3 linked regions of the Homo sapiens genome follow. The protein of the gene in region 3 interacts with the protein of the main gene of each other region in a pairwise test. Each region holds a gene or a part of one and is shown on either strand. Other genes may lie near its edges. The genes, in order: ATRIP, FAM200C and METTL21A.

Region 1 (3,651 bases), on a different chromosome or scaffold from region 3:
GCAGAGTGGGAAGGCCCTTCTGCCTCCCTCTGCTGGGTCTCCATCACGTGAGCACTCATTCCGGGCAACCAGATTCAGTCCAGTGAATGCCAGGTTCTGTGCTTCTCTCAGGGCTGAGAGGGAAAATGACCCATCATAAGAACCTGTGGTCCTGAGGCCTGACATTCCAGCCAAGGTACTGGCAACAAACACAAAGAAAAATAGATTAAGTGTGGGATGGAGATAAGGTCAAGAGCCCCAAACAGCCTGCCTGCCAAATTCTCCAGGCTGCCTGCCCTTCCCACAGACTTCTCAGGCTGGCCAGGGCCAGAAAGGAATTTGCTTCCAGGAAGCTCCTTCCCAAACAAGCTTTCCAGGAGTCTTATGCTTACCTGCCAAACCCTGGTGGCTGCAGGGGGGTGCCAGCAGGAGACTCAGAACTACTACTCAGGAGGTGGCAAAGGCTTAGGGATGACCCTGGGATCAAAGGCTGCTTCAGGAGCAGGTTTATCAAAATGGAACCTGCAGAAGACAAGATGACTCTAGAAGGTTCTGACATGGGAGATCTTTTCGGTGGCTTTCAGAAGGAAACAGTAAGGATTCTTTGGATGCCAACTGTCCTCTAGGCTGCCACTAAGCCCCAGGAAGATGCCTGTGGGTGCGGAAGGCTCTGGGACATACCTGCCCTTGGCCCTTTCCACTTTATAAAGTCTTCTGCTTAAGCCACATACTTTGACTTCCCTGGACTCTCTGAAGGACTGCCCGGGGCACCGGTTCTCAGAGGCCTGGGCAATTCTTCTGCATATTACTCAGAGCCATGCAGGCCCCTGCAGGAGAAGCAGGGATTCTGGTACCTTGAGTGTTTGATCTCTGTCTCCAGCTGTCAACAAAGCTTTTCTGGGCCTCTTCTTGTTTTATGGAGTCACCTCTCAGACTGTGGGGCTTACTATCTGAAATGTGATAAAATGTAAATCAAAACTTGAGCCCAGAAGCATGGGCATATTAGAAACTTTTACATGCAATGAGTTTAAAACACACGCTGTTCTACTTCTTCGAACTTGGAACAAACAAGAGCCAAAGCGGCTCAAGAGCCCTGCATCTTTTACCTTCCTTATGTAAAACAGGAACTCATACAAGGAAAGGAAAAGAAAATCAAGCTGTTTGCCTCACTCAAAATGAGGCAATTAGATAAAACAGTGACCACTAACATTGACATGGTGCTTGTTACGTGCTAGACAGTGTTTTAAGAGCTCTATACGCATCAGCCCATTTGTTCCTCAGTGACCCTACAAGGATTTATCATTAGGTCTGTTTTACATATAGGGAAACTGAGGCACAGAGACTAAAGGACTTGCCCAAATCATATAAGCCAGTTAACAGCATTACTGGGACTCACATCCAGGCTACTGGGCTCTACTGCCTGCTTGTAACACTACTGTACACTGCCCCTTTAGCTGCTAGATGCCAAAAATGTAAGTGGGCTACAGTTTCTCAGAAGTGTTATGATGGCCAAGGATTTGAAAGGTTGATGGTAAGAAGAGGGTCAATGTATCCGATTTATAAGATACACTGACATAGCAGTCTGAAAACCTACTGATGTTAGATTGTCTCTCTCTAAAAAACAGCAGATCCCCTCAATCTGGACTGAGTTATAAAAACTCAAAAGCTGGACTACAAAAGGAAAACAGAGGCTGGGCACGGTGGCTCATGCCTGTAATCCCAGCATTTTGGGAGGCTGAAGTGGGTGGATCACGAGGTCATGAGATTGAGACCATCCAGGCCAACATGGTGAAACCTGTCTCTACTAAAAATACAAAAATTAGCTGGGTGTGGTGGCGCATGCCTGTAGTCCCAGCTACTCGGGAGGCTGAGGCAGGAGAATCGCTTGAACATGGGAGGCAGAGGTTACAGTGAGCCGAGATCACGCCACTGCACTCCAGCCTGGTGACAGAGTGAGACTCCGCCTCAAAGAAAAAAAAAAAAAACAAGAAAAGAAAAACAGATTCCTGCATACTAGCTAGGTTTTTGGCATGGTCAATTGATGCTGTGATGGTTTAAAAATATGCCCACAAGCATGATGGCAGGTGCCTGTAATCCCAGCTATTCGGGAGTCTGAGGCAGGAGAATCACTTGAACCCGGGAGGCGGAAGTTGCAGTGAGCTGAGATCGTGCCATTGCACTCCAGCCTGGGTGACAGGGTGAGACTCCGCCTCAAAAAAAAAAAAAAAAAGGCCCACAAATGCTTTGACACAACTCCCCTTCAAAAGGTATAAGCTTGGGAGGAGGGGGGAGGGATAGCATTAGGAGATATACCTAATGCTAAATGACGAGTTAATGGGTGCAACACACCAACATGGCACATGTATACATACGTAACACACCTGCACGTTGTGCACATGTACCCTAAAATTTAAAGTATAATAATAAAATAAAAATAAAAAATAAAAATTAAAAAAAAGGTATAAGCTTGGTTTCTCCCCTTGAATGACGCCCAGACTCAGTGATTTGCTTCTAACAAATACAATGTGGCAGAGGGGATGCTGTGTGACTTCTGAGGCTAGGCCATAAATGGATAGCTTCTGCCTGGCTCGCTCTCTCTGGATTTGCTAGCTTTAGAGGAAGCCACCCACCAGGTTAAGAGGATACCCCATATCCATGTGCAGAGGCCCATGTGGCAAGAAATTACACTGCCAGCCATGTGAGTGAGCCACCTTGAAATAGATCCTCCAGCTTAAGACAAGCTTTCAGTGATTCCAGTCCCTGCAGAGATTGTCCCCTCTGTGCCTTGTCAGAATTGCTGATCACAGAAATTGGGAGAAAATAAATAATAATTGTTTTAAGCCACATATTTGGGTAGCTTGTTATACATCAATAGATGACTAATGGACTTACCCTCTCTGCCCACCAGAGGCTTGTATCCTGACTCCGTCTGGCAGGGGTGGGGAAGGGACATGTTAGCACTAAAAGACTCCTTTGTAGGAAAAGATGTTTTTCCAAATTGTGGAGAACATGCTTCTGGCTTTATAACCACAGAAGGGTTTTTCCTAGGACTGGAAAAAGTTAACTATGAAAGCAAAGTAATGATTCTACTAAAACCATTCAAAATATCTGGTTACAAAATTTCTAACAAACTTTAAACTTTTCATGTCTAGGTGTTTTAACCAAAGGTTTTATCTATTATATGTCTACCATTCTTTGTCAGAGGAGCAGTGCAAAATTCCAGGCATTTGTTTTTCTTTTTAAAAATATTTTAAAATTTTAATTTCTCTATAGAGATGGGGATTCACTAAGTTACCCAGGCTGGTCTGGAACTGCTGAGCTCAAGTGATCCACCCACTCTGGCCTCCCAAAATGCTGGGATTACAGGCATGATCCACTGTTACTGGCTAATTCCAGGGATTTTGATCCAAATTATTGAAAATTCTTTTACTCATTTTTATATTTTTCTAATCATCCAAAAATATAATATTAGCCATAATTCCTTTACTATTCTTTATTATCACTATTTACAATTCCACCAAAACATTTTTTTTTGAGACAGAGTCTTGTTCCATTGCCCAGGCTGGAGTACAGTAGCATGATCATAGCTCACTGCAGCCTTGACCTCCTGGGCTCAAGCAATCCACCCATCTGTAATCCCAGCCTCCTGAGTAGCTGGGATTACAGGCACAC
Region 2 (4,156 bases), on a different chromosome or scaffold from region 3:
AATATGAAATAATGTTGTTCAGGCAGTCCTGAAACACAACCTGGTTAAGTAGTCAGGCTTAGGGGAATAAAAACGTATCCTTCAAACCAATCCTTAGCTAACAAATATTCTAGGTTTCTAAGTGAATGGTCCCAATGCTTTAATAGATATTTAAATTTTCTACATTTTCTGAGTTGATGACAGCCTCCTATGAAAGTTGAAACCTAAAATGAAAGCCATATCTTTTCTCTTTCTCTCCCTTTAGCAACGAGTAAAGGCATAATCCACAGGTAGGCTCAAATATACCTTAGAAAACATTCTATCTCCAAGATAAGTAAGTGATCCCCAAAGTTTCCAAAGTTCTGTGCCAGAGAATGTGGCTGAAATAAAGTAACAGGTACACATTTAAATCTGAATGCCCACTTTGGACATTAAAAGAAAAATCACAAGCCAAGAATATCCACTTAAAGCATTAGCTTTCAAGTGGATCTACCAAGATGAACTAGTTGTAAAGTGTACTCCAATAAAATAAGCTGAGCTGTTACAAGGTTGTTATGAGCCTGTTAAATTGGAGGATGTCTGCCAATCAAAAAAGACAACCTGAAGTTTAAAGAGCTGATCTTAAGACTTCTTTTGTCAAGTAATGAGACTACATGACCACTTTTGCTTAGAACCACTTCTAATTAATGACGATAAAATTATGACATTACCATAAATGCTTATTTTTCTGTATTCTATTAATGTATATTTATCATGTAATATTTGGGGAGGAAGAGGGAATAAAGGAAAATGTTTTTAGTCACATTAGAAATCATTACAAGAGGGGCCCTGCACGGTGGCTCACGCCTGCTACCCCAGCACTTTGGGAAGCCAAGGCGGGCAGATCACTTGAGGTCAGGAGTTCCAGACCAGCCAGGCCAACATAGTGAAACTCTGTCTCTACTAAAAATACAAAAATTAGCTGGGTGTGGTGGCGCATGCCTGTAGTCCCATCTACTCGGGAGGCTGAGGCAGGAGAATCGCTTGAACCCAGGGGGCAGAGGTTGCTGTGAGCTGAGATCATTGCAGTGAGCTGAGATCACGCCACTGCACTCCAGCCTGGGTGACACAGCCAGACTCTGTCTCAAAAAAAGGCTGGGTACGGTGGCTCATGTCCATAATCCCAGCACTTTGGGAGGCCGAGGAAGGCGGATCACCTGAGGTCAGGAGTTTGAGACTGGCCCTGCCAACTTGGCGAAACCTCGTCTCTACTAAAAATACAAAAATTAGCTGTGCATGGTGATCCCAGCTACTGGAGAGGCTGATGCAGGAGAATCGCTTGATCTGGGAGGCAGAGGTTGCAGTGAGCCGAGATGATGCCACTGCGCTCTCCAGACTGGGTGACGGAGTGAGACTCTGTCTCAAAAACAAAACAAACTGGAAATCATTACAAGATCTGTTAAGAGTCCATTCCTATCCACCTTGACTATGTCTCTCAAGTATATTTTAATTTAAAATTTATCTGTTTTGAACAGTTTTAGGAAAATCAATTTAAAGTATTCTTCTCCATAACCCTCAAAAAGGGAGAACAGGTGGCAAGAATTTTCAAGGGCCTCAAAGATGAACTTACTGCCCAAGAGGCTTGTGTTTTAGAACCTCACAATTTGCACTTGCGCTTTTGTGGTATTTAGGAATTACAATATCCTAAAAAACGTAAACATTAAAAAGCATCATGATAAGGAGATATTGTTAAACAGGCATGATAATGGTATTGTGGTTGTGTTTTTAAAAAGTCCTCATTTGTTAGATACAGACAATTATTTACAAGTGAAATAAGATGTCTGGGATTCCTTTGAAATACGTACTTCAGCACACTCACAAACATGCACAAAGCGGGGTGGAGATAAAAGAAATGACTGGCCTTAAGTTGGTAACTCTTGAAGCTGGATGATGGGTATACATCATTACACCGTTCTATTTTAATGTATTTTGGAAACTTTCCATAATAAAAAGATAAAAAGCATTATCTTAAGATAGATATCACTCATTTTAAGCATGATTCTTTTGAGAGATTATCTTCAGATGCTTAATGAAAGATCTGATATAACAAAGTAAAATGTTTTTGCAAGTTTATGAAGGGTAGATATGAAAAAGTATTACAAATGAGAAAAATCAGTTAAAAGTGAACACTCACAAAACAAATATTTAGGGAATGCTAATATATATATATTCCAGCAGTGAAAACACCAAAGTGCAGCTGTAAACCTAAAACTCCAAACCAAATACAATTCAACTTCTTTCTAGCCACTGCGTATGCAAGATCATGATAGGCGCAGGTGTCTGGGGAGGCAGAGCATTTAACCATTACATTTTACAGTTAAAATCAATAGCCAGGAGAATGGGGGCAGGAACTTGGTGGCTGGGCAGACGCTCCAGGGGCAAACGCCTGGGATCGTGGCTTTGTCACTTACAGGATGGGACCTTTCCAAGCCTCAGTTCCTCCAGAGGGGATAACAGTACCTACCTTACAGGGTTGTTAGGAGATTTAATTATAAGAATGCATGCAAATAACAAGCAGCTCTTAACTGATAGGACCTGATGGTGTTACTGTTAAGGACGGAGATTTTTACAGCCTCCCGGGTGAGATAAGAACGCCAGCTGCTAGGAAAAAAAAAAAAAAGACTCAGCGCGGTCTCCGCCCGCCCGTCTCCAAGCCTGAGGCGCAGGCCTATGGGATGCACGGGCTTCTTTTAGGCGCCCGTTTCAGGCTCCAGTCCCACTCTCCGCTCAGCCTAGGGCCCAGCCTCTGGCCGTCGGAACCAGTAGAGACGGCGGTTCCTCGGGTCCAACCCCCGGGCAGGAATCTGCGGTGCGCCTGGAGAGAGAAGCATCCGCAACAACCTCCGCCTCAGCCAGGCCCGGGTTCCATCCGGGTTCTCCAGGGTGCTTCCCGCCCGCAAACTGGGAGAGGCGTCTCCCACACGCAGGCGCAGTAGCAAAGGGCTGTGGGATGGGCTGGCTGGCTTGAGTATTGAGCATGCGCGCTAGCCCTTCCCAATTTTTTTTTTAAGATTGTGTACGTGGAACAAGAAATCGTTTGTTTATTGTGTCTGCCAGAGAGGATGAACTGTACAATTTCAGGAATGGAAGGGGCTGTAAACTCCACATAGTTCTTTTTAACATGCAGAGCACTTAAACTTTTATATTGTGTCGGGCTTTGAGCTTGGAGATAAAACGCCTGATAATTGCCATGTTCCATGTGGAATAAATGAGAGAAAAAGAGAAGGAAGCTCATTGTAATTTCAGATTAGACATTTCAGCAGTGGAGGATGAGCTTCCATAGCTTGTGTACTGTTGCCTATGCAAGCTGATCCCACTTTCCGTAAGTGGGAGCATAGGGATGAATTTCCATGTCATCATCATATATCTGAAATATTTTTATTTTAAATTCTTTCAACAACATGATTTCAAAGAAATAAACCCATATTAGAGAGGTTTTAGAGAAAAATCCCAAGTAGAAACTAGGAAACGTTGTTGAAAGAAACCGGAATATAGCCCTTTCCTGTTTGGGGGTCTTTCCAGAATTCTTATAAACTTAATGAGTTTACTCATTTTTGTACAATCTTGTTAGAAGCATTCCATAAGACTAGTGTGTGTGAGGAGTGGTGGGGCGTCAACGAATGTGGGCCAGATACATCATTTTCAGGTGTTAAGGGTGAGCCTGGTAAATATTGACGGGCTGCTGAAGTTTTTTGTGGATGGAAGAAACTGCTAAAGACCAGCCTTGTTGGTCAAGAAATTAGGGCCTTCAATACTAGAGAAAGGGGTAGGCTTCAGAATCCCACAGCTAGCTTCATGTCCTGACTCCAACGGTTAGGATTTGTGCAGGTTACTTGGAGTTAATTCCATGTGCTTTTTGTAAAACTTACATATCATCCATTACCCCATGAAATTCTTTTGAGGAAGGAGATAACATTATGACAATTACAGTACATAATTCTCGCACTCAAAAGGCAGCTATTATTGAGATAATAAAATCAAAGCTCAATCTGAGTAATGTCCTAGGCATTATGTTTTTTTCTTTTTTTTTTTTTTTTTTTTTTGAGACAGGGTCTCATTCTGTTGCCCAGGCTGGAGAGCAGTGGCGCAATCTCAGCTCACTGTAACTTCTTGAACCGGGTTCAAGCAATTCTCATGC
Region 3 (3,651 bases):
CTAGCACTTTGGGAAGCTGACGCAGGAGCTCAGGAGTTCAAGACCAGCTTGGCCAACATGGCAAAACCCCATCTCTACCAAAAAAACTACAAAAATTAGCTGGGTGTGGTGGTGCACGCCTGTGTCCCAGTTACTGGGGGTGCTGAGGTGGGAGAATCGCTTGAGCTTGGGAGGTGGAGGTTGCAGTGAGCTGAGATTGTGCCACTGCACTCCAGCCTGGGTGACAGATGGACTGAGACTCCATCTCAAAAAAAAAAAAAAAAAAAAATTAAGCTTTCCAGATCCAGCAGGACCCCATTTAGTGTGGGCATCATCTCTGGGCACTGCTGTGGGACCCTGTGCTTGCTCTAAGGGGGAGGTTACCTTGCTGCACCAGCTAAGTTCCTGTGTGTGTTGTTAAGCTGGGAATTGAACCTCGAAGTGGGAGAGGGGTGGGTGTAGCTGACCTGAAACCCTGCAGCTACTCAAGCACATGTTGACCTTAATCGTCATCACACTGTGTTTTCATTCAGGCCATCGTTCTTTCCACATACCTGGAGATGGGAGCTGTGGAGCTCAGGGGCCGCTCTGCCGTGGAGCTGGGTGCTGGCACGGGGCTGGTGGGCATAGTGGCTGCCCTGCTGGGTGAGTGTCATGCATTGACTCCTTAGTGAGCAGAACTCATTGAGAGGTGCATTTGCTGTTTTCTTAGCGCAAAACCCTTCGTGGGTTTTCCCCTTACTGGGTTATTATCTTTTGCTTATACTTATGAGTTGTGGGCCAACTGCTGGGGTTCTTAACTCCAGTGAGGCTAACGGGCTAATTTCTCTCTCTCTAATTTCTGTCTCTCTCTCTCACACACACACACACTCTGTTATTTATACTTCCCATGGGAGATTGCTCTGCCCCCTTCAATTCTGTGATGCCAATAATACGATCTTAAAGTGAGTTGATTCAAGGAGAATAATCTTACCCATGTATAGAGTTTTTTTCACATTCAGGGGCTTTCTTTCCCATACACTATCTGATTTAACCCTGTGAGGGAGATAGAGCAGATAGTCTTTTCTTCATTGCTGAGGAAACTTTGCTGGTTTTTCTCTTGTAGGGAGGGCTAGCCCCCACTATAGTTTGTACTGACTTCTTATTTTTAAAATTGTATGAACAGTATACAGTTCTGACTTGATATCAAAGTTTGTCATTTTAAAATTTGGTATACACACATTAATTGAGGCTTGGAGCTAGAGCATTTTTAGGCTTCATTGTTATTTTTATTATTGACTATTGACTCATTTCTATAACTTCTGACATATATAGTTCAAGCTATCTAATCATAAGGGTAGACCAGCTTTCAAGATACAATGTATAATGTTTATCACTTCCATATTGTCACCTGGTGCTCTTGTTAAAATGCAGATTCTGATTTGGCAGGGCTGGACCAGGGCCTGGGAACCTGCATTTCTAACAAGCAGTAGAAATGTCAGTAGTGATGCCGACACTGCTGGTTCTCAGACTACACTTGGGTAGGAAGGATCCAGGATTCCAGAGTATTCTAAACCCATCGCATTGTCTACAGATATTTGAGGACCAGCTAAAGCCCCTCTTTTGTCCTGCCTGTTTTCCAGAAACCCAATACTTTTTCACTATTTCTTTTTCTGCTTAGCTGCTGCTTTCCAAAATTCGACAGGGAGCATGGGCAGGGGTGGTGGTTGAAAGTCTGTGTAAATTGACAGAGGTTTCCGTCCGTCTTCAACCACAGCACTTAAGTCATCGATGAAGCCCTTGCTGGTACACTGCCTTTTATTCTTTTCAGGTGAGCCTTAGAACATTCCCGTGTATGTTAGGTATTATTTTTAATTTTCATTTTTCAAACAAAGCTGGGATTCTGGGAGATGAAGCTACTTTCTGAAGTCCTGATCACTGGAGATCTGGGACTCAAAACCAGGCTTGTTAGACACAGTTAGTTGTTTTATTTTATTTTATTTTATTTTATTTTATTTATTTATTTTTTGAGATGGAGTCTCACTCTGTTGCCCAGGCTGGAGTGCAGTGGCATGATCTCGGCTCACTGCAACCTCCGCCTCCCGGGTTCAAGCAATTCTCCTGCCTTAGTTTCCCTAGTAGCTGGGACTACAGGCATGTGCCACCACGCCCAGCTAATTTTTTATTTTTGGTAGAGATGGGGTTTTACCATGTTGGCCAGGCTGGTCTCGAACTCCTGACCTCAGGTGATCTGCCCACCTTGGCCTCCCAAAGTGCTGGGATTACAGGAGTGAGCCACCGTGCCTGGCCTGTTTTATTTTTTTCTGTAACACCAACTTCTCTCTCTGCTGATATAAGAGTTACTATAAGGGGAAATGAGGTTTCTTCTGTTTCCTCCTGAGAACCAGGGCTTCATGCAAAACTTTCTTGGCTGGTGTATAGACATGTTAGTGTAGCAAAGTGCATAGGCTTAGTTATACTTGGTTTTGACATTTCTTTTCATTCTTACTAGTCGTGTGACCTTGGGCAAGTTGCTTAACCTTTAAACATTGATTACCCCATCTGTACATTGTGCATAATAGTAATATTTACTCCACAGTGAGGAACCAATGAGATTGCGTGTATAACATCTGCTGGCTCACTGAGTGACACAAAGGAAGTGCTCCACGAGTGTTGATTACTCTCTGAGTAACTGCTTTTTCTGATCTAGCAATCTGGTTCTCTGGGGTTGGGAAAGTCAGAATAAGATATTTCAGATACCACCAGAGTTACCATTAGCATTTTGGTATGTTTTGTTTCTCTCCATCTGTATTTTTAATCATAGTTGTAATTATGATTATATATATGTAAATATATATGTCTGCGTATGTGTGTTTTGTGTATCCGTATACACACACCTATACAAATGATGTTTTCACATTATGTCATAAGCATTTCTCTGCTACTGTATGATTTTCATACTCACTATTTGTAGTCACTACAAAGTGTTAGGTTGGAGAAGTTTTGCTGTTGGAGCCTGAGGGTAAGAAAATGTTAGTCTCTTCAAAATAGAATCAGTGAGTACTAGAATAGGTAGTGATTTTGAAATGTCAGGAAGAGATTAATTATTATTCTTTTTAAAGTATATTCTCTTTTTGTAACCTTAGTCATTTATTCCTGAATTTGGGGAGAACCCACCAGAAGCCTGGCGGTCCACTGTGGATGGGGCAATAAACAGGCTGGCAGGTGTCTCCGGAAGCTTACGTTCTGAGTTTAGTGGGTAGAGGTAAAGAAAGAAGATTAAAAAAAAAAAAAAAAAGCGGTGCTATGTAGATATTAATATAGGGTGATGAGACTTTCCTGTTAAAAACCAGCTGCTAATTCCTGAGTAGTTCCTGTGTTCTGAGGACTGTGCATTACACCCTTTCATTCTCACAGTCACCCTGCATGGTAAGTAGGCCTTACCTACTTATAGCGCCCTTCCAGTGGTGAAAGGGAGGCTTCTTGGAGGGTAAGTAACTTGCCTGAGGTCACAAAGCTAATGGATTGTGCTTAGAATTTGAATCCAATCTGACTCTCAAATCCTCGTTCTTAGTTTGAAAATCTCCCTGGTCTTATGGTACTTGGAACTGTAGCAGTCCCCCCTCACCTGTGATCACTTTCCCTGGCTTCAGTTACCCACTGTCAGCCTTGGTCTGAAAACAGGTGACTAGA

The links.
Region 1: the proteins of METTL21A (region 3) and ATRIP interact in binary tests that used the Homo sapiens proteins (3 or more experiments, as listed by UniProt).
Region 2: the proteins of METTL21A (region 3) and FAM200C interact in binary tests that used the Homo sapiens proteins (3 or more experiments, as listed by UniProt).

What each region holds. Positions count from the first base shown.
Region 1 is NC_000003.12:48,456,637-48,460,287, reverse strand, and holds part of ATRIP (ATR-interacting protein), read right to left. Parts: intron 3,030-3,651; coding exon 2,872-3,029; intron 930-2,871; coding exon 834-929; intron 502-833; coding exon 372-501; intron 179-371; coding exon 1-178. UniProt on the Homo sapiens protein: Required for checkpoint signaling after DNA damage. Required for ATR expression, possibly by stabilizing the protein.
Region 2 is NC_000005.10:160,397,157-160,401,312, forward strand, and holds the start of FAM200C (protein FAM200C), read right to left. Parts: upstream 2,899-4,156; 5' UTR 2,483-2,898; intron 360-2,482; exon of another isoform or gene 286-359; intron 1-285.
Region 3 is NC_000002.12:207,618,779-207,622,429, reverse strand, and holds part of METTL21A (protein N-lysine methyltransferase METTL21A), read left to right. Parts: intron 1-512; coding exon 513-624; intron 625-1,639; coding exon of another isoform or gene 1,640-1,689; exon of another isoform or gene 1,690-1,735; coding exon of another isoform or gene 1,736-1,789; intron 1,790-3,651. UniProt on the Homo sapiens protein: Protein-lysine methyltransferase that selectively trimethylates residues in heat shock protein 70 (HSP70) family members. Contributes to the in vivo trimethylation of Lys residues in HSPA1 and HSPA8.